Linked DNA regions of Homo sapiens. The protein of the gene in region 1 interacts with the protein of each later gene in a pairwise test. Each region holds a gene or a part of one and is shown on either strand. Other genes may lie near its edges.

Evidence for each region.
Region 2: the proteins of LTC4S (region 1) and FFAR3 interact in binary tests that used the Homo sapiens proteins (3 or more experiments, as listed by UniProt).
Region 3: the proteins of LTC4S (region 1) and SLC7A14 interact in binary tests that used the Homo sapiens proteins (3 or more experiments, as listed by UniProt).

What each region holds. Positions count from the first base shown.
Region 1 is NC_000005.10:179,789,239-179,797,023, reverse strand, and holds LTC4S (leukotriene C4 synthase), read right to left. Parts: upstream 3,039-7,785; 5' UTR 2,944-3,038; coding exon 2,886-2,943; intron 1,441-2,885; coding exon 1,341-1,440; intron 1,239-1,340; coding exon 1,168-1,238; intron 1,084-1,167; coding exon 1,002-1,083; intron 772-1,001; coding exon 630-771; 3' UTR 377-629; downstream 1-376.
Region 2 is NC_000019.10:35,353,847-35,361,046, forward strand, and holds FFAR3 (free fatty acid receptor 3), read left to right. Parts: upstream 1-4,679; 5' UTR 4,680-4,803; intron 4,804-5,033; coding exon of another isoform or gene 5,034-5,044; coding exon 5,045-6,085; 3' UTR 6,086-6,643; downstream 6,644-7,200. UniProt on the Homo sapiens protein: G protein-coupled receptor that is activated by a major product of dietary fiber digestion, the short chain fatty acids (SCFAs), and that plays a role in the regulation of whole-body energy homeostasis and in intestinal immunity.
Region 3 is NC_000003.12:170,582,976-170,590,195, reverse strand, and holds the start of SLC7A14 (solute carrier family 7 member 14), read left to right. Parts: upstream 1-4,120; 5' UTR 4,121-4,285; intron 4,286-7,220. UniProt on the Homo sapiens protein: Imports 4-aminobutanoate (GABA) into lysosomes. May act as a GABA sensor that regulates mTORC2-dependent INS signaling and gluconeogenesis. The transport mechanism and substrate selectivity remain to be elucidated.

The DNA.
Region 1 (7,785 bases):
TCTGGACATTTCCTTGAGACCGCCTGTCACTGACTCACTTCGTTCCCATGGTGCCCGCAGCTCTGCGGACCTCGGAGGGCTGCCCTGAACACCTACAGTTAACGAGGGGGATCCAGTGCTGACCAAAAGAAAAACCCCTGCCCTCACCTGGGGAGAGAGCCACAGGCTCTATCTAGTGTCAGCTGTGAAGGCCAGGGGACGAGGGACTGCGGCGGCTGAGAGTCGAGGGAAGGCCCCTGAGGAGGGGGACCGGTGAGGAGACCGCTGAGCGCTAGGAGGGTGAACCCCGGCAGGACTGGGCGGCCTTGTGACCCCGAGGCTGAGTAGGGAGTGGGGTAGGAGGTGAAGACCGGATCCAGTCCCGCCCCAGGGGGAGGGCTCGTTCCTTCGCAGCCACTCTCACGCCGCCACTAGGAAGCCCGCCCCGGGCTGCCCGGACTCGGGCTGGGCCCCTCCAGGCTCCGTAGCCCGCGGTGCGCCACCCCCGCGGACCCAGAGAACGCAGCCCGGGTCTCGGTCACTAGAACTTTAATGATAGAGACTAGGATGCGGAAGCGAGCGCCCCTCCCCGGGGCAGCTGGAGGCTCCGGCTCTTCTTTCCCGGCTCCGTCGGCCCGGGGGCCTTGGTCTCAGGCCCACGGCAGCAGCGTCCGGAGCCGTCCGAGGAGCGCGGCGCGCAGCGCGGCCGGGAGGAAGTGGGCGAGCAGGCCGAGCGCAGCCAGCGCCACCAGCAGCCAGAGGGCGCGCGCGCTCGCGTACAGCGGTGCCAGCCTGCGGGCGGCGGTCAGCGGGGAGGTGGCGCGAGGAGGCCCGCTTCTTCCCCGCCGCAACCCTGGCCCCACGGGGACTTCCTCTGGCCGCCGCCAGGGCTCGCCCACCGAATCCCCAAAGGCGCTGGGCTCCGGCCCGTCGCCCGCCCCCAGCTTCGGTCCCGCTCCCCAGGAGCCCCGCCCGCCCGCGATCTTTCCCCGGCCCCGCCCCGCTCCCCGCCCGGCCCTCACCTGAGCTGCGCGGAGCGCGCGTAGCCCTGGAAGTAGCGGAGGCGCGCGAACAGGTAGACCAGGCCGCACAGGGCCGCCGCCCCTGCGAGAGGTACGCACGGGCCTGGTGAGCGCCCTGCGCGGGTCCCGGGGGTCCAGCGCGTGCGCCCCTGCCCCACACCCCGACCTTCATGAAAGAAGATGCCGGCGACCCAGAGCGTGGCGAGGAACAGCGGGAAGTACTCGCTGCAGTTCACCCTGCGGTGGGCGGGTGGGATGAGCGCGCCGGCCGGGATGGTCCTGCGACCCGGACCCGCCTGGGGCTCGCTCCCCGCCCCGCGCCCTCCCGCCGCGCCTCACTGGGCTCGGTAGACGCGCTCGAACTCGGGTGGGCCGGTGGTGAGCGGCGGCGACACGCGGAAGGCCCTGCGCGCCGAGATCACCTGCAGGGAGAAGTAGGCTGGGGGAGGAGGGGGAGCGGGAGTCAGGTCTGGACACCCGAAGCCCCAGAGATGGGAGTGGGAGGGATCCTGCAATCTGGCCCTTCACTTGGCCGTGTCCTCTCCTCCCTAAGGCGGAACCCCGCCCCCTCCCCGCCCGAGGAGACCTCTCGTCTCACCCATCCCTGGCCTGCCCTGTGTCCCTGACATTCAGCGAGGAGGGCAGGGCTGAAGCCTGGGGCGCAGAGAGGCCCTGTCCCAACCTGTGAGTGTATGGGGGAGGGTGAGTGATTCAGGCACAGGGACACCTGCTCCGCGAGAGAGACCACTTGAGTCCTTGTTTCTGAATCATTTCACTCTCAAAACACAGGCAAATGCAGCTTTCAGGTCCCTGGCCAGGAAGTGCCTCGGGAGTCTGAGGGCAGAGCTGGCTGCATCCTCCCAGGTGCAAGGAAGCACACTCCCTGTAGCTAACAGTCCCTGGTCACCCACCTACCAGCGCCCACCAGCAGGGCCCTCTGACCCTGCCTCAGGCCGGGATCACTAAAGCCTGCGTCCCTGTGCCTCCAAACCTCAGTTTCTCTGTTCCTGCATTCCGGTCCCAGGCCTAAATCTGACAGACACCTTCTCTCCTGCTCCCAGGAGGTTGCAGCTGGGACTCTCCTAGCCTAACCCCAGGACCCCAGGGCTGGGGTAGTTGCAGAGGGTGGGCTGGCCCTAAAGTTTCTCTGTGGGCAGGAGCCCTTCTCTTGGTCAGGTGAGGCCAGGCCAGACCACACACAGACCAGTGCTGGCTGTGCGCTCCCTCCCCAGACCTCCCGTCGGACCATCTCCCCCTGAGTCCTGCAGCCCTGGCACCTTTGGTTCTGGGCCCTCTGCAGATGGGTGTCACAGGGTGGCCATCCAGCTCAGTGCAGGAGCAGCTGGAGGTCAGGCTGGCCTGTCTGTTCAGCCCCTTCAGAGCCCCCTCCCCAGGCTGTGCCTTATCCTAGCCCACACACTGTGGAGTAGTGGTGTCTCTTAGGTGGCAAGGATATCTGGCCAAGGAATGTGTCCTTTAGGGCCAGTCTGAGAAAGGCATTAAGCAGGCTCTTTTTAGGGGGCTGGAGGAAGGAGTCCCACCTCTACCCTGCTCCACGTGGTCCCAGTATGGAGGTGCCTTTGAAGCAGAGCCAGGGAATGGGGGCCGCTTGCTGGGACGCCCAGAGAGGGGACAGCTGGAAAGAGCAGAGATCAGCTTCCCCAAGCCCATGGCTATCCTACCATTTGTCCTGGCACCCTTGCCACCCCCAAGTCCTACAGCTCTCACAGCCAGGTGCCCCCCAGTTCCCTGAAAGTCCCCACCCTCTTCCAGCTTGGGCCTGGGCTGGAGTCCCCACCTCTGCCCTCCACCTGGGCCTAGGGGGCAGAGGGCAAGCTGTAGGGATCTAAGGCCCACCCTCTTCCTAGATAGGAACCAGCCCACCTTGCAGCAGGACTCCCAGGAGGGTGACAGCAGCCAGTAGAGCTACCTCGTCCTTCATGGTACCGTCGGTGTGGTGGCACGGGCTGTGTGTGAAGGCGAGCTGGGGAACGCTTAGCCCCGTCTGCTGCTCAGAGGACGGCCCAGGAGAGGAAGAGCAGCCTCGGTGCTCTCCCCGCCCCATCTCAGTGGAGGGGGTGCACGGGGGTGTGACCATACCACACAGAGCCAGGGAGCCAGGCCAAGCCAGCAGGGAGGAAACCAAAGTCTGGGCAGGGGAGAGCAGCTAGCTGGAGACCGCCTCACCACTTCCTGCTTGTTCGTGCCCCTTCCTTGCCTAGTCCCGCGTGGCAGAGCCCAAGCTGTCCATCTGGGTCAGCTCCAGCTGTGGGTGTGCCCCCTGCTGCACCACCCCACTTTCTCCAGGGCCTTGCAGACCCCCACATCATGCTGGAGCCAGCCCCAGGCTCCCGGCTAACTCCTCCACCCACCTTATCTGTTCCCTGTCCCCATCCAGGCTGTTCCTGGCAACCCCTGCCAAACCCTCCTCTGCGGAAGCCCTTCCCAGTGCCTTTGGCTTCAGAATGGAGTCCCAGCGCCCCCCCAGCCACACTGGGCCCCACAAGCTCTTTCTCCTTCAGGAAACCTCATGCCTGCCAGCCTTAGTCGTTGTAGGGGTTCCATGCACAAGGGCCACCCTGCCAGGAGGAAACCTGTCCAAGGCCCCCTGGGTGGCGGGAGGGTCAGCCCTTGTGGGCCATCCCTCTCCCAGGCCTCTCTTGGGCCTCCCACAACAGTCACCTGCTGTGTCTTTCTGCCCCGCAGCCCTCTTGCCTCAAGGTAACAACCCTCCACCACCTTCCTAGACGGCTGCCCTCCCCACACTCAGGCCCTGTGGTCTGGACAGTGCTGACTCCTGCCCCTTCCAGGCCTGTGAGATGGACACTGAGCCAAGGCTGACTCAAGATGGTGAGATGTAGTTCTGGAAACTTCCTTAGGACTTTGGGACAGGAAACTCAGAGTGGGGAGGGGGACTACGGCGGGCCACCCTGAGGACAGAGCCCACGCAGGGCCAGGTGGAGAGGAAAGGTGGCACCCGAGGACTCCTGCCTGGAGTTCTGGGTGTCTCCCTCGCCCCGCCTGGAGCGCCCCCGGCCGCCCCCCTCGCCCTGCCTGGAGTGCCCCTGGCCGCCAGCCTTCCCAGTTGGGCCTAACGGTCACTTCCTCTTTTGGCTTGAGTGGGTTTGCGGTGGCTTTTGGTCAGAAGTGGCAAAGTCCAGACTGACCCAGAAGCACGGGCAGGAGCTGGGGGAGGCCACAGGCCGTGCTGCAGGGGTCGGGCCGCATGGTTCTGCCCTCGCACCTGGTCCTTCCTTGCTGCCCCAAGCTCAGCTCCAGCCTGAGGCTCGGAGCCTGTTGGGCTCTCTCAGAATCCCTTCTTCCTCCTCTGGGTATCGCCCCTGCCCCCGGAAACCAGATATGCCCCAGCTGGGGGCTCTGTGAGCTCCTCCAGGGCAGGGGCCAGGGCTCAGGCCCGGCCCCTGCTTTAGACCAAGCTGTGACAGTCATCTTGGGGCTCAGTGATGGAGGACTGCCTCCTAGATCCCGGACACAGATGTAGTGCCAGGGAGCGATGGTGGCCGCGTCCTCAGACTCTGCCCACTCAGCCTCCTTCCTCCCTGAAACCTGCCCCACAGGGCCTGCCTGAAGGGTGGGATGCAGCCCACCACGCAGGGGTTGACGCTGGTGCCAGTGGGCTGTGCCCAGGGTGTCTGTGTGCACCACGCATACATACCTGCATGCCCCTTGGTCAGTTGTCACACACCCATGTCTCTGTGCTTGTGGGTGTCCAAGTGTCTTCGTGAGTCCAGGCCCTCCTGTCAGCCAAGCTCTCATTTCCTCCAAGGCCTGAATGTCCTCCCGTCGGAGTTCATCCCCTCAGTCCACAGCAGGAAGCCAAAGCCTAACATCAGCAGCTTCTGAGGAAGTCCCTTGGCAGATGTGCAGGGCAGGGACCTGGGTCTTGGCCCCGGGAGCCCTCCCCGGGTCTCTTGGTTCCCACCTCCCTCCCTCTGAGCCTGCCCAGGCTGTCAGGGCCCTGCCTGGGCTCAAGCCAGCTCAAGCTGACAGGAGGGCCAGCCAAGCCCCCACCCCTGCTCGGGCCACCCAGCTTCCATCTTCCTGTCTAGCTCTGGAGGCACCAGCATCAGGAGGGAAGCGAAAGCTCCTCCCTGAGCCTCCACAGAGCCCTAAGGAGTCTCTGATGCCCACTCACCAGGACCTCTGGGCGGCAGAAAGGCCGGCAGAACCATTGCACAGAGAAGAAATCAGAACTTCTGTGGAGTGGATCATAGGCAGTGCACAACTCAGACCCTGAGCTTGAACAAGAAAGTTTATTTAGAAATTATTTTATATTTGAGACAGGATCGTGCTCTGTTGCCCAGGCTGGAGTGCAGTGGCTCAACATGCCTCACTGCATCCTCAAACTCCCGGGCTCAAGCAATCCTCCCACCTCAAGCCTCTCAAGTAGCTGGGACCACAGGCTCTAATTTTTTTTTTTTTTTTCCAGAGATGGAGTCTTGCTATGTTGCAGGCTGGTCTCAAACTCCTGGGCTGAAGTGATCCTCTGCCTCAGCCTCCCAAAGTGCTGGGATTACAGGCATGAGCCACCATGCTTGGCTGAAATTATTTTAGACTTACAAAAAAGTTGCAAAAATCTACAGTCTCGGCCAGGCGCGGTGGCTCATGCCTGTAATCCCAACACTTTAGGAGGCTAAGGTGGGCGGATTACCTGAAGTTAGGAGTTTGAGGTCAGCCTGGCCAACATGGTGAAACCCCATCTCTACTAAAAATACAAAAATTAGTCAGGCGTGGTAGCAGGCACCTATAATCCCAGCCACTTGGGAGGCTGAGAGAGGAGAATTGCTTGAACCCAGGAGGCAGAGGATGCAGTGAGCCAAGATCACACCTGAGCGACGGAGCGAGACTGTGTCTCAAAAAAAAAAAAAAAAAAAAAAAAAAAAAAAAAAAAAAAAAAAAAACTTGTATAACCAAAATTCAGTTATAAACCAAGAGATTTCCATTGATACAAGTTAGTAATCAAGTATTTTACGGATCTTATTCAAGTTTCACCAACTGTCCTACTGGAATAGTACAAAGACCTCAAAAACTTTATGCTAAATTGTGCCAGGCTGGGCATGGTGGCTAACGCCTGTAATCCCAGCACTTTGGGAGGCCGAGGTTGTGGACCACCTGAGGTCGGGAGTTCAAGACCAGCCTGACCAACATGGAGAAACCCTGTCTCTACTAAAAATACAAAATTAGCCGGGCATGGTGGTGCATGCCTGTAATCCCAGCTACTCCGGAGGCTGAGGCAGGAGAATTGCTTGAACCCAGGAGACAGAGGTTGCAGTGAGCCAAGATCGCGCCATTGCACTCCAGCCTGGGCAACAAGAGCGAAACTCCGTCTCCAACAAAAAAAAAAAAGAAAAGAAAAGAAAAAAAAAAAAAGGCACAGAGAGGGCCAGGCGCGGTGGCTCACGCCTGTACTCCCAGCACGAGGTGGGCAGGTCACGAGGTCAGGAGATCGAGACCATCCTGGCTAACACGGTGAAACGCCGTCTATACTAAAAAATACAAAAAATTAGCCGGGGGTGGCGGTGGACGCCTGTAGTCCCAGCTACTCTGGAGGCTGAGGCAGGAGAATGACGTGAACCAGGGAGGCGGAGCTTGCAGTCAGCCGAGATCGCGCCACTGCACTCCAGCCTGGGCAACAGAGCTAGACTCCGTCTCAAAAATAAAAAAATAGAAAAATTAAACCATAGACTTAGAGAAAACATTTGTGAATCATATATATGATTAAAAAAATACTTTGAATTCAAAATATATAAAAACTCTCAAAACTGGATAGTAAGAAGACAGTTTCCTGAGTAAATGGGTGCAGATCCCTGTAGGGCAGAGATCACCTGCTGTACAGCTGAGAACTGATTCAGTCTGGAAGTGGCCTGGGATCGTGAGAACCTGAGTCTTTACTGGGGCAGCTGGCCTGGCTTCTCTCTGCTTCTCTGTTCTTCTTCTTTTCTTTCTTTCTTTCTTTCTTTTTTTTTTTTTTTGAGACAGAGTCTAGCTCTGTCGCCCAGGCTGGAGTGCAGTGGCGCCATCTCGGCTCACTGCAAGCTCCGCCTCCCAGGTTCACGCCATTCTCCTGCCTCAGCCTCCCGAGTAGCTGGGACTACAGGCGCCCGCCACCACGCCTGGCTAATTTTTTGGTATTTTTAGTAGAGACGGGGTTTCACTGTGTTAGCCAGGGTGGTCTCGATCTTCTGACCTTGTGATCCACCCGCCTTGGCCTCCCAAAGTGCTGGGATTACAGGCGTGAGCCACTGCACCCAGCTTTTCTTTTCTTTTTGAGATAGGGTCTTACTCTGTTGCCCAGGCTGGAGTGCAATGGCGTGATCTCAGCTCACTGCAACCTCCGCCTCCTGGGTTCAAGCAATTCTCCTGCCTCAGCCTCCTGTGTAGCTGGAATTACAGGCGTGCACCACCATGCCCAGTGTATTAGTCCGTTTTCACGCTGCTGATAAAGATATACCCAAGACGGGGCAATTTAACAAAAGAAAGAGGTTTATTGGACTTTGGGGAGGCCTCACAATCATGGCAGAAGGCAAGGAGGAGCAAGTCACATCTTACGTGGATGGCAGCAGGCAAAGAGAGAGGAGCTTGTGCAGGGACACTCCCTTTTTTTTAAATTTTTTTATTTTTATTTTTGGTTTTGTTTTTCGAGATGGAGTTTCGCTCTTGTTGCCCAGGCTGGAGTGCAGTGGTGTGATCTCAGCTCACTGCAACCTCCGCCTCCCAGGTTCAAGCGATTCTCCTGCCTCAGCCTCCCGAGTAACTGGGATTA
Region 2 (7,200 bases), on another chromosome or scaffold:
TAAACATGGTGAAACATATGCAATGACTATGAAAGATCACTTTTTACTTCTGTACACAGTGTACTGGCGAGAACTGCTCACCAGGAGGTGATTAGCTTCACGTGGTGTTGGAAGCAGATACTCAACAGTTGAGCTCACGGAGAAAGCACAGGAGGTGGCTACGAAATTATTATAGGAGTACAGTATGTCTACAGTAAATATGCACTTATGACTTTAATACTGCACATCTTTATGTTTGCTTGCATTTCTCTTGACTTCAAATGGCATCAAATAGAGTTTGTGTTTGCGTGCATATATTTTTGATAAATTTTAACTTTTTTGTTTTGTTTTGTTTTTAGACAGAGTCTTGCTCTGTCTCCCAGGCTGGAGTGCAATGGTGTGATCTTGGCTCACTGCAACCTCCGCCTCCCAGGTTCAAGCAATTCTCCTGCCTCAGCCTCCCAAGTGGCTGGGATTACAGGCACCTACCACCACACCTGGCTAATTTTTTGTATTGTAAGTAGAGATGGGGTTTCACCATGTTGGCCAGGCCTGTCTCGAACCCCTGACCTCAGTTGACCCACCCGCTTCGGCCTCCCAAAGTGCTGGGATTACAGGCGTGAACCACGGTACCCTGCCAATTTTAACTTTCTATAAGAGATTTGCCCAGCCTGGGCAACATGGAGAAACCCTGTCTTTACCAAAAATACAAAAAATTTAGCTGGGCATGGTGGCGTGTGCCTGTAGTCCCAGGTACTTGGGAGGCTGAGGTGGAAGGATGGTTTCAGCCTGGGACGCAGAGGTTGCAGTGAGCCGAGATCATGTCATTGCACTCCAGCCTGGGTAATAGAGCCAGATCCTGTCTCAAAAAAAAAAAAAAAAAAAGCTTTGTATCCATTTTGGCATACATAGACTAGTATGTATGGCAGTAAATAGACTAGTGGCAGTAAATAGACTAGTACCTACATATATTTTTTGTATTCGTGGCATACTTAACTTTTGCTTAATTTTAAAAATATATTTCTAGGCTTGTAGTTCCTCTGTAAGTTTTTTCAAATTGTTGCAAATCTCTGAAAATGTTTCCAATGTATTTATTGAAAAAAATCCACAAGTAAGTGGACCTGCACAGTTCAAACCTGTGCTATTCAAAGGTCAACTATATAGTCTGTAATACGTGATGGGTGTCACGCTGAGTGTCTACAGTGAGTGTTGTCTCACTTCAGCTTCACACAACGCTGTGGTTTAGCCTTGCCACTGCCGTACGGATGAGCGGGTGTTCACTACACGAAGGTACTGGGCAGAGGAGCAAACACTGACTAAATTCTAGCCTGTGCTTTGCTCAACAAGCCACATGCCTGCCTTGCTTGCATCAAGGGAAGGAGTATTGTGTTCTAATTTGAAGAAATACACCAGCCACTCCTTAGGCAGCACTTGGTGCGGGATGGGCTCCTCTGGAAAGGGAGCACCTAATTTGCACAAAGGTGCTGCACCAGGTAGCTACGATCCTGGAATGGGATGAAGAAACTTGCCTAAGGCCCTACAGCAAGGAAGGGGTAAAAGCAGGATGTGATCCTTCCAAGCAGAACCCCCAAGAGCCAGGGGACATTTGGGAAACCTGGGGGTGTGGGGGTTAACCCTGTATTTGTGGTCCATTTCGCAAAGGATAGCATCCCACATCCATGAGAGGGAGGTCAGAAGGGAGTGGCTGTGGCTGTGAAGGAGACAGACACCTGGGCACCTGCTCTAAATTACAGCAATGCCATGCACATGATGATGTATTGGAGCACAACAAATGGCAGCCACCAGCTGGGGTGCACGCACCAATTTCTACAAATGAGCTCTGTTCAGGCTGAAATGTCTACGCATGCAAGGATTTTTCTTGTAATTGATGATATATCCCCAGCGCCCAGAAGACAGAGTGGCACGCAGTAGGTGCTCAGTAAATGTTCGCTCAATGAATGAATGAATGCCTCTACTAGCCTTCCAAAGAAAGTTCTATGTCTGTTTTATCAATATGGAAACAGGCCAGAGAAATTAAGTAACTTCTTTTGGAAGCCAGAAACAAGCCCGGCACTTGTGCAGTGACAACACCAGGGAATTTCAGTAAAAACCCAAACTCCACCCCAGGGAGCCCCAGTGCCTCCTCCCGCATCACAGGGTGCCAGGGCCCACTCTCTTTGACTCCTGCTCCATAGCCCCTGCTGGGTACTGGGCTGCTTCTCCCAGTTCCTCCTGCCTCCCCCCACTTAGGGCAAATCCAGTGCCTCCCTGGGGCCCAGGAGACTCAGTGTGATCCACCCCAGGCGCCTCTCACTCCTGTGAGACCCAAACCTCCTATCAGCTCCCCCAGCAGGCCAAGTCTGTGCACCCGTGACTCCCCTGCCCCAATGTTCCCTCCAGTGGCTCTTTGCCTCTTCAGTATCCACGTCTTCATGATCCTTCCCCTACTCCATCCCCCAAGCCCTCACCACCAAATGTAATGTAAACAGCATGACAGCAAAAACTTTTTGTTCACAACTGCGTGTTGTTTTTTTTTTTTTTTTTTTTTTTTAGACACAGTCTCACTCTGTTGCTCAGGATGGAGTGCAGTGACACAGTCATGGCTCACTGCAGCCTTGAATTCCTGGGCTCAAGCGATTCTTCCATTTCAGCTTCCCAAGTAGCTGGGACCAGAGGCACATGCCACTAAACCCAGCTAATTTCTTTTTTCTTTCTCTCTTTTTTTTTTTTTTTTCCCCTGTGGACATAGGGTCTCCTCATGTTGCCCAGGCTAGTCTCAAACAACCTGTGCTCAAGCAATCCTCCCACCTCAGCCTGCCAAAGTGCTAAAATTACGGACCTGAGCCACCGTACCCAGCCTACTGCTGCACTTTTAACAGCTTAATTGAGATATTATGTACATATCATCAAATTCACCAATGTTAAGTGTACAATTCAATGATTTTTAGTAAATTTACTGAGGTGTGAGTCCATTACCATCAGCTAGTTTTAGAACATTTTCATGACCCTAGTAAAGGATTTTACTTCATGTTCATTTAAACTTAATCTTGGGCCAGGCGGGGTGGCTCACGCCTATAATCTCAGCATTTTGGGAGGCTGGGGTGGACGGATCACCTGAGGTCAGTAGTTCGAGACCAGCCTGGCCAACATGGCGAAACCTCATCTCTACTAAACATACAAAAATTAGCCAGGCGTGGTGGCGGGCACCTGTAATCCTAGCTACTTAGGAAGCTGAGGCATGAGAATTTCTTGAACCCGGGAGGCAGAGTTTGCAGTGAGCCAAGATTGCACCATTGCACTCCAGCCTGGGCGACAACAAGACCCTGTCTCAAAAAAAAAAAAAAAAAAAAAAAAACAACTTAATCTTCATTTCTACCTCCATCCCCCAGACAACCACGAGTCTACTTTCTGACTCTATAACTTTGCCTATTCTGGACATATCATATAAATAAATGAAATCTGACAATATATGTACATGGTCTTTTACGTCTGGCTTGTTTCACTCAACATAAGGCTGTAGTGTGTATGGGTAGCTCATTCCTTTTCTTTGCCAAATAGAATTCCAGTATATGGATGTGCCACTTTTTTATTCACTCACCAGCTGATGGGCTGCCAGGTAACATTTCCACTGTTGGTGACTATGACCAACACTGCTGTGAACATTTAGGACTGAGTCTTTAAGTAGACCTGAGTTTCCACTTCTCTTAAGTAAATACCTACGGTGGAATTGTTGGATCGCATGGTGAATTTATGTTTAACTTTTTAAGCAACTGCCACCTGCTTTCCAAAGCAGGGACACCACCTCCCATTATTCTCACCAGCAGTGAATGAGGCCCCTATCTCTCTACATTCTCGCCGACCATAGGCATTGTCTGACTTTTTGCTTGTGGCCATTCTAGTGGATGTGAAATCATATCTCATTGTGCCCTGTGATTGTTTGAATGAACTAATAGATCACCTGTGAAACTGGACAGCACTTGGGTTTGAACCCTAGTGGTGACATTTCACAAGCTGTATCACCTGGAGCAAGTCACTTCCCTACGGTGAAGGACAAGGATTTTATGACATAAAAGCGTTGCCCTAGAAGCAGTGTCTGCTATGGATTATGTGCCCATGAAAAGGCAGCTGCTGTCATCATCGCCACCACCATTATTATTGTTATTATTATTACATTGTCACCCCAGAGATAATCCTGCACCAGTGACAGGGAAAATAGCAGCTGGCATCCGCTGCCTGCTCACGACCACACGCCAGGCTTCCGTCAAACCACTCAACATGTATTAGTAATCTTTTAATCGACCTACATATTGTTTTAATTTGCATGTGTTAATGCGTTGATCTATGAGATGGGTATTATGATGAGCTCTGTTCTGCAGGGGAGAAAGCAGAAACATGGAGAATTTAAGTCATTTCCCCCAAATCACAAAGTCAGGAAGAAACAGACCTCACGGAGCTCGCTCTCTGTCATTGCATCACACTTCCTGCCCTTACAAGGCAAATTGGATAAATGCCATTCTAGAGAAGCAGACAAAATTCAAGTGAAGAAGGGGAGAGGAAGACGTCGGCTGGGGCCTGCTTAGAGCATCCCAGCTGAGACTGCATGAGGAGGGAGGCACGCAGTTGTGGAATTTGTTCCCCTTTTAGCATGCTGACCAGCCCTGGCAACGGAGCTCAAGGCATCTATGTGCCACTGCTCAACAGTGAGTGACGTCATGGGCACGGCCAGGTCTTTATCAGTTCTGCCGGATAAATAGCCAACTGCACTAGGTCTGGAGAGACAGCAAGGTGCTGTGCGGCAGAGCATTTGGGGTCTCAAAGAAGCAGGTGAGCCTGGGCCCGAGGGGCTGGGTGGAGGAGCACCTTGGTGCTTCTCTGCTGGGGAAGGGACAGGGGACAGGGCATGCTCAGGAAGACAGGCAGGCTGACCCCGCCTGGAAGGCACCCAGAGACAAGAGGGGTGGGCGTAGTGACCTCGTGCCCTTTTAGGGGAGATGCTGCTGGCCAGAGGCCGTTAGGGCCCCCACTACCAACTCCATGTTACTCTCTCTCACCAGTGGCCACCACCATGGATACAGGCCCCGACCAGTCCTACTTCTCCGGCAATCACTGGTTCGTCTTCTCGGTGTACCTTCTCACTTTCCTGGTGGGGCTCCCCCTCAACCTGCTGGCCCTGGTGGTCTTCGTGGGCAAGCTGCAGCGCCGCCCGGTGGCCGTGGACGTGCTCCTGCTCAACCTGACCGCCTCGGACCTGCTCCTGCTGCTGTTCCTGCCTTTCCGCATGGTGGAGGCAGCCAATGGCATGCACTGGCCCCTGCCCTTCATCCTCTGCCCACTCTCTGGATTCATCTTCTTCACCACCATCTATCTCACCGCCCTCTTCCTGGCAGCTGTGAGCATTGAACGCTTCCTGAGTGTGGCCCACCCACTGTGGTACAAGACCCGGCCGAGGCTGGGGCAGGCAGGTCTGGTGAGTGTGGCCTGCTGGCTGTTGGCCTCTGCTCACTGCAGCGTGGTCTACGTCATAGAATTCTCAGGGGACATCTCCCACAGCCAGGGCACCAATGGGACCTGCTACCTGGAGTTCCGGAAGGACCAGCTAGCCATCCTCCTGCCCGTGCGGCTGGAGATGGCTGTGGTCCTCTTTGTGGTCCCGCTGATCATCACCAGCTACTGCTACAGCCGCCTGGTGTGGATCCTCGGCAGAGGGGGCAGCCACCGCCGGCAGAGGAGGGTGGCGGGGCTGTTGGCGGCCACGCTGCTCAACTTCCTTGTCTGCTTTGGGCCCTACAACGTGTCCCATGTCGTGGGCTATATCTGCGGTGAAAGCCCGGCGTGGAGGATCTACGTGACGCTTCTCAGCACCCTGAACTCCTGTGTCGACCCCTTTGTCTACTACTTCTCCTCCTCCGGGTTCCAAGCCGACTTTCATGAGCTGCTGAGGAGGTTGTGTGGGCTCTGGGGCCAGTGGCAGCAGGAGAGCAGCATGGAGCTGAAGGAGCAGAAGGGAGGGGAGGAGCAGAGAGCGGACCGACCAGCTGAAAGAAAGACCAGTGAACACTCACAGGGCTGTGGAACTGGTGGCCAGGTGGCCTGTGCTGAAAGCTAGGTCCTCCGGGGGAGGAGGGTGTAGCTGGCATGTCATCCTCAGGGCGCTTCCTCGCTCACGCCAGGAGGGACTTGGAGTGGCGAGCTGGGGCCCGATGGGGCTTGGGGGCAGAGTAGACATCTAGCCTCCCTAAGGGTATGCGCGCTAAAGCCCAGCTCTCGATCTCACCTCCATCCCCATCCACCCACACACTATGGATTGGGCTCTGGGAAGGGGTCAGGGTGAGAGGCTGCTCTGGAGAACAATGAGGTCCTCATAGCAGCAGGCAGCTCCTGTGTTTTCTTGAGGGTGGCAGAGGAGCTAAGAGCAGTGCCCAGGGTCTGAGGGGGCTGCCCAGTGAGTGGCAGGGGCAGGAGAGGGGAGAACCCCATCCTCAGAGCTGCTCCCAGCCAGCGAGTCAGGAGCGGGGGAGACAGGGCTCCAGGGATGAGGCCGCATTCTGCTCCCACAGCGCCTTTTCCAGAAAGTTCCCATTGCTCAATAAATGTGGATCATCAGAGACATTTATGAACAATGACAGAAGAAAAATTACCCAAATAAATGTGGAAGCAAGCAAAAGAGAACAGTGTTTCCTTCTTCTCCTGTTTTGTTCTGGTGGTGTGCTTGGGCCGGGTGGGACTGGTGGATGGAAGGAGAAAACACCAGACTCTGGAGGAAAAGGGCCAAACACCAGGATGCCTGGATGCTGGGAGAGGATCTGGCTTGCAGGGATGAAAATAACAGCTGCCCTGTCTAAAGGACTTGGCCTGACACATCATCTCCTTCTATCTCTCAATAGCCCTGTGAGAGGTACCAGCATTATCCCCAGTTTCAGATGAAGGAGTGGCCCAGAGAGGTGACACCTCCTACCTGAGATCCCATAGCTGGTGGGCGATTGAAGTGGGACCAGAAGCTGGTGTCAGTTGACTCTGACACCCATGCCCCTAAGCCACTCTGCTGTTCTCCATCTGTGTGTCACCTGTGGTCACCTGGCCCAGTCAAATGTCCCAAGTCAGATAAGTCTGTCTGAGCAGGACAAATATAAACAGGCCATGATAAGAAACAGAACTAAATGCAAAGCGTATTGACTATTTGTGTGGGTTCAACCTTTTCCCAGTAAAAAAGCCCTCTTGGAA
Region 3 (7,220 bases), on another chromosome or scaffold:
TGCTAATTTCCTTTTTAACAAGGAGAAAGCAAGCCTTCGGTTCCTGGGAAGGCAAAGGTATTTATCTTGACTATAATAGCATTGTTTTATTCTCATTGTGTTTGTTTAAATAGTTGCCTTGTATTTATGGCAACTGATATCAGTTTTCTATTTAAGGTAGTGATGAAAACCTCTTTAAAATAAATTAATTTAGGAAAGTGAATGTAATTAAAGGAAGGAAACACATAATAAATGGGAAGAACTGTTTGCTTTAACGATTCCTTCCATGTCAAGGAACTCCATTGGTTTGACAGTCCTGACCTCTGTCTTGACTCCATAGTTTCACTGATTAGGCAACTTTATTTACTCTGCATGGGGTAGGAGTGGGGAAAGTGCTATATTCTATTGTAAATTTAGGAATAAAATGAGCATGCTTAGGTCAGCATCCTCCTTCTTCCTTTTGAAATTTAAATACCTAGAGGATAATTTACTCATAGATAATTTGCTTATAAATTTCCAGTCCAATTGGTAGGATCCTAGCAGCAGGTTGTTTGTTTAATAGATCTTTATGGTGTGCCTATGGTAATGCTAGGTTCTGGTTGTGTGTCTTATTTTCTGTCTTCCTGCTGCTCAAAGGTACTGCTCCCTTTGGAAAGTTCCAGACGAGCCTCTAGCCAGGCTATCACAGTGTCTTTGGTTTCTCAGGTTTTGAATCTGCTCAGAGGCAAGAGTCAGGGGCACTGATGAGCTTGGGGTCCTTCTAGAAGAAAGCATCAGGTACTCATTTTCATGAATCATGAGACAAAAATGGAGAATTGTTTTTAAGGCATCTGGCCAATTCCCTCATGGCTTAACCACCATCCATTCAAGCAGGTCAGTCATGAGGGATTTTAGTCGTTACCCTTTTAATGACCCTATTTTGGCAAAAGGCCCTAGATAAGAGTGCTCTGCTGCTTCCCTGGAGAGTAATCGCTTTTGTCTCTGAGCCCCACATTTGCTTATGTTAGTTCTCTATCACTTAAGTGGTGCCCCTTTACTCTTCATTATATTGTTCTGTTGTATTTCCATCATGATACTTATCTCCACTGCTTTGTTTACTTGTTTGTGGTCTGACCCCCTGCTCTAGACTGTAAGCTCAAGGAGAGCAGAACCATTTCTGTATTGTTCATGGCTGTATCCTAAGTGTCTAGAATATGTTGAATACATGAATCAACACTTCCACATTTCAACTGTAGGAACAAGAAAACAAGGATGTGTACTTTAAAGATCTAGTTAGTAGTCACTTTGTAAGATCATTGTTGAACTCTGGAACTTCACCAATTGTTGCGGCTGTGCATGGCTCTAAATAATTAAATTTTTGTCTGCTGCATTTATATTTCTTTGTTCATTAATGCTCTACTTACAGCTGGAAAGTGTTTGCAGTGGCTTATGATAAAGTCAACAATCATCATGCAAAAGACAAGAGCTTATAAGTAAGGGAGGACCCAAGGGAAACCTTTACAAGAAATCATTGCTAAGGTATAACTTTCTACTGCAATCTATGCAAGATCGGTTCTCTAAGTTTCCTTTTCTGCTCTTCACTGGGTAAAGTTGCCTTGGACATTTAAAACTGCTTTGAAAAAATATATATTCAGAGTCCTTGAGCAATTTCTGGTGAAACTGTTCAAAATTTTCTGAAATTTATGCTTGTCCAGGTAACTGCTCATAAAGGCATCATGGCCAAATTAAATGATTTCATGCTTATTTTTCCCTTTCTCATGTTTCTTGATGTCAGTGGAGAGGTAGGCAGGAGTCAGAAGCAGCATTTTACCTAGCCCAGACAATTTTTTCAGTGGTATATATAGAAGCATGGTTGACACTTTCTGGTCTTTTAGTCTCCCTAAATACAAAGAGGTCCAGATTAGCAATTTCCAAAGAATATTAAGGGGAAGTACACCAGGAGATAGGATTGGAATCTGCTTAAGGTTGGAGGGTTCCAGGAGTTCCTGGTTTGTGTGAGGATTTCATTGAGTTTATTGGCAGTGGACTAGAAACACATATCATCATTCAAGCTGCTGATGAATGTCTAGAGTTTGTTCCTAGAATCCAAATTTTTTTTCTTTGAAATCGAAGCCATTTTGAATTACCAACCCAAGTCAATTTTACCTAGCAAAGGCAGAAAAGTCTAAACCCTGCTGTCTTGAAATATAGGCACAAACTTTTCTCAGATAGTAAATATTCATAACTATTGTGATTGTGGCTGGTGTTCCAGAAATAAAAGGCCAGGGAAATATGGAGATTTAAATCAGAAATTTATCCAGAAAAAGGTGAAACAAAGAATGCAGTTCTCCAATAATCACATCCCCTGAGCTACAGGCATACATGCAGACTTAGAGCAACACACCAACATTTTAGTAGCTGCATATTCCATGACAAATCCCATCTTCCCATCTTATCACCCTCATAATTCATTTGGACTAGAATAGACTCAGGGTTTTCTTCAGCCCATAGTATTCATACTCTTTACCTTTTACAGTGACTTCTCATGTGCTATCCCATCTAAACATCACAACCATCTTATATAGAAGGCAGGTAGACATTCCTTTCCCATTCTGAAGATGAGAGTCTGACAATTTAAGTGATTTGTGAAAAATCATATGATAAGTAGCTGGCAGAACCTGCACTGAGATTCCAAATTTCTGATTTTTTAACTTTGCACTTTTCCTACAATGTCTCACAGCTTCTTGGTGATCCCAGGAGGTCTAACATATCCTGCAGAACTACTCAAAGCTTAAAATATGGGGATATTGTCAGGCTTAGATGCTCATCGAAGGCAGTAACAAGCTTGAGGTAGGTGGACTAACCAAGACTGTCCTGGCAATGATCAAGCAACTTTCTGGGAAGAGCCCAGGGCAGACCCACAAAGTAGAGCTAGATTTGAACTGCTCCACCCTAGAGGAGTATCAGTCAGCCAGTATTCTCCCCAAACACAAGCCCAGTGAATTCATTTCCAAGGATAGGAGAGTTACATTTTGTTGCCTCCCATGTGTTTTGAGGGCTTGGGCCAAAGTGCAAGAATTTATGTAGATAACTTTCATCCAAATCAGTCTACTCAATGCTTGTTAAATAATTCATTCGGTGATGTGGCCAAGCATGCCTGGGTTGGTCCCATCTAGTCCCAATCCTTTTGGGACATAACCTGGCTCTAGGACACTCATCTTAAAGGAGCTAATACAAAACAGAAACCTTATCTCACTCTTGTCTCCGTTTAGACTGGTACTTGTCTAGCCTGACCTCACAGATGCCTCCTTCCATGTTTAAAAGATGCTTTCACTGTATTAGCACACATCACATCCTTCTTGCCTTGTGAAATTTATTTTAACAAAGGTGGGGGAAAAAGAACTCTCCTTTATTGAGCTCCAAATACCTGTCCAACTCTAGGCTAGGCAATTCTAAGAACATGATGATTTCTCAATCTCATGACAATACTGCAAGGTGGTTATTTCACAGACGAGAGAAGAAAAGCTAGAAAGTTAAATGCTCCAAGGTCATACAGATTGGAATCCTAATGGCTCTTCAAATCTCAAGTCCATGATCTTTGCACCCATAAGATGTTGTGAACCCAACGATAAACTTAAGCTTTGAAGACAGAGGTGGGTCTTGTCTTCTTTAGGAGGAGAGGAGAAATCAACCTCTCTCATTTTTTCTTTCCTGTAGGGCTCAGGGATGTGGAAGTTTAAGAGCAACGAAGGCTCCGCAGAGGATGAGGGAAGCTTCCAGAGGGCAGGAAGGAGGTCTGGACAGCCCAGTCTAGCAGGGGCAGAGCTGCGGCAGATGCCTTCCCAACGCACAGACATTGCAGAGTCCTGCTGGTCCCTGCTTTCCCAGGGCAAAGAACTGCCCCCATCCACGGCCCCCTCAACCTCCCTGCAGCCTGACATAAGACACTGGAGGTCACAACTGGAGGCTCAGAAGGCCAGCGAGGAGTTGTGAGCGGCAGACAGAGGGGAAGGCAGGGGGGCCAGGTGGGAGGTGGTCTGGTGCCAGGCTTGGGCCCAGTATGTAAGGGGTTGGGCAGGCCATGTGACTCCAAGGAGGCGGAGACAGGCGAGCTGGAGGGAGGACGAGCAGGCACGGGGAGGGGTTCGGGGGGTGGGGGCCCAATCTGAATAATTGAGGAGCTGTTCAGCAGCAGCGGCTGCCTCCTGCCTTCCTTTGCCGCCACCACCACTTCCCATCCCAGCTAGAGAGACAGCTCCGCGCAGTAAGTGCGGACTGCCAGCCACCAGCCTTGGCAGCCAGCTCGTCGCCTCCAGCCCCGACCCCGGTAAGTGAACGGCCCCCTTCGCTGCCGTTTGTCCCCCTCCGCGCCCCCCGCGCCCCAGCGGGACCCCTGCAACTGGGATGGCCGCCTCTCCCGGAATGACCCAGGGAGCCGGAGTCACCGGGAGCGGGGGACCAGGAATATGGCGCGGAGGCCCAGGGCGCCCTCCGAGAAGGGGTTCCCTGGAAGAACCGAGGAGGTGGGTCGGGCTCTTTCCTGCTCTGGCCCGGAATGAGGCCCCGACTGCCCGCGGTCTGGGGGCACCGGGCTCTGACTCGCGGGAGCTGCCGGGCGGGGCGGGGGCCAGCGCGGCTCCGGCGCCGCTAGAGCGGGAGGCAGAAGGGGAGCCGCGAGCGGAATGCGGGCAGCCTAGGTCTCGGCAGACGCCGGGCCCGTCCTGTCCCCCGCCTTGGCGCGCACCCCGCACGGGCAGCTCCGTTCTCCGCCTCGGACCGAGACCATGAAACGGAGACGCTTTTCCGGCCGCAGACTCCGGGGAGGTCGGGAGCAACGTCTGCCCTTTTACCTGGGAGCAAACTCCTCAAAGGGACTCCCGCCGAGCCCAGCACCCCGACCAGGATGGTGGCGCCCCGAGGGGCGTCTGTCCCCGGAGAGTGGTGACTCTCCCGGGAGCGGCGAAGAGGACGTGACGGGAGCGGTGTCCAGGGAAGCTCCCTGCCCAGAGCCGGCAGCCCCAGCAAGGGGAGCTCTCCTGCACTGCTTCAACCCTCAGTCTCCTCTCTTCTCCCATTCCAAAGCACATCAGCTCCCCTCTAATCCAAGAGGGCCAGGTTAGGGCTGCGTGGCCACGCGGGATGCAGCCCCCACCCTCCTTCTCTCTCCTGTGTCACCCTGCCCCCTCCCCAAATGAGTATTTTATATTGCGATTGAAGAGTGAGCAAAGCAAAGGCGAGAAGAGATGCAGGAAGGCTAGAGCAGCGGGGCTCGCTCCTGTTCTGGCACTCCTCATCCCCCCACCTGTGTGAAGCTCGTTTCCTTGAGATTTTGAGCGGAGACACTCAAAGGAACTGGCTCTGGCGAAGGGATCCCCGCCTGAGTGTCGGTGAACGTCACTGGCCCGAATTGCCCAAGGGCCGCAGGATGTCACCCTGCCTCCCCCTAGGTATAGGGTCTAGGAGAGCGCTGGGGGCAAGGTAGCTCTCCTCCTCCGACTGAGTGCAGGGAATGGCGCTGTCCGCGGTGCTGAAAGTTCTCAGAGGCTGGGTGCTAATACCGCCAGGGCCCACATTCCCTGCGAGCAGAAACTGCGTTAGAACCCTAAAGGGTTCTAAGCAAGCGACCTAGAGAAACAGGAGAAGAAGGGGCTTTGCCTTTCCCGGTTTTCTGCTTCCCCAGGACTCCGCTTGGGAAAAGGTTCCCGGCTTTCCTGAGTGGAAGAGCAGGAAGCGGGTGTCACTTCAGGATCCAGTTTTGCTAACTTCGGGAGCTTCCTCGTTCTACTTCCTATACCTGAGCAGTGAGACTTCCTGTCGGTAAAGTGTTGAAAGGCAGTTAGGGATGCTGTTTTGATAATAAACATTTCTGTGGCTTTCAGGAATCAGAGAATTGTTAGGCTACACAAAGGAGGGGCTTCATGGTTGTAGCTTTTTCCTCTTCTTAGAACCCTTCTTTCCCCACTGCATGTTATTTACATGCTCTAGATAAAGATCGCTAAGCAGCCCTGTATGTTTGTTTCTTTAGCTAGTCTTTTATATTATGGGCAAGATGGGGAAAGGATTGAGCCAATTTGGGGAGGCCTATTTGTACTGAACACCTCTATCTGCTGGGTAATAATATTTCATTTAAACTTCACAATAGCTGCCAACCAAAAGTATCACACAGAGAAGGAAACAGAAACTTGATTCCAGAGATTGGATTCAAAATCAGATCTATTTAACTCAAAGTCCAAGCCATTTTCATGCCTTCATTTTGGTATTTGGCTCTGAATAGCTGTTATTGGAGATTATAGCAGGAGAATGACAAAGGAGGGAGGCCTGCTCTTCTCTTTCACACACTCTCCTCTCTTCCAACCCTTTTCTCTTTAATCCGTTCACCCACTCACTGTCATGCACTCCCACCCTCCCAACTGCTTTTGCATGCTGCTTGAGATACCACTGTTCACACAACTTCAGCTCCAATATTATGGAAACAAGTTAGAGAACTAAACCAGCAGCCTTTTCTAAAAGAGTAGCAGGGCTTCAGGAAGTCTGGAGAACTAGAGTCCACATGTACTTTCATATTTAGAATTATACTGTTGAATTTTAGAACTAGAATAGCTTTGAATATCATTTAGCACCATCGTTTTACAAGAAAGAAAACTTGGAAACCAAAAGATGGTCATTAGTCTAAGTCACATGATTGAAAAATTAGAACCCAGTTAACTTGATTCCAGGCCCAGGGCCTTTCCCACTATTTCATGGTGTCTGAAATACTCTTCCATACTGCTTTCTTTGATTATCTTTGACTAAACGTCAGCATCAGTGAACTAAATTAAACAACATGCCAAAAATACAAACACTTAACATACAAGCATTCCTCTTACCTTTCTTCCAACTCCTTTGTCTTCCAGCTCTTTCCCCTCTGGTCCTACTATTCCAGTGTTGTCTAACCCAACATACCTGGGAGATATGACCCACCTTCCTCAGTAACAGTTTTCTCTGAAGCAGCAATTCACAAATGGGAATGGTAGTGTGTCATTTCTTTACTTGCCCTATCTTGTCTATATCTCCTCTTCTATGACCTATTCCCCAAAAAATAATTTTCCCAAAATTGGTTACCCTAAGCAACTGCCCATGTTCTCATAGGGACTGGGAAAAGGCCCTAATAAGACCTAAGGATTTTTATAAATAAAGATCATTATAAGTGCTAATATCTATGAAATGCTTATCATATGTGAGGCACTATGTGAAGTTATTTCATCAATCATTTTACTGAATTA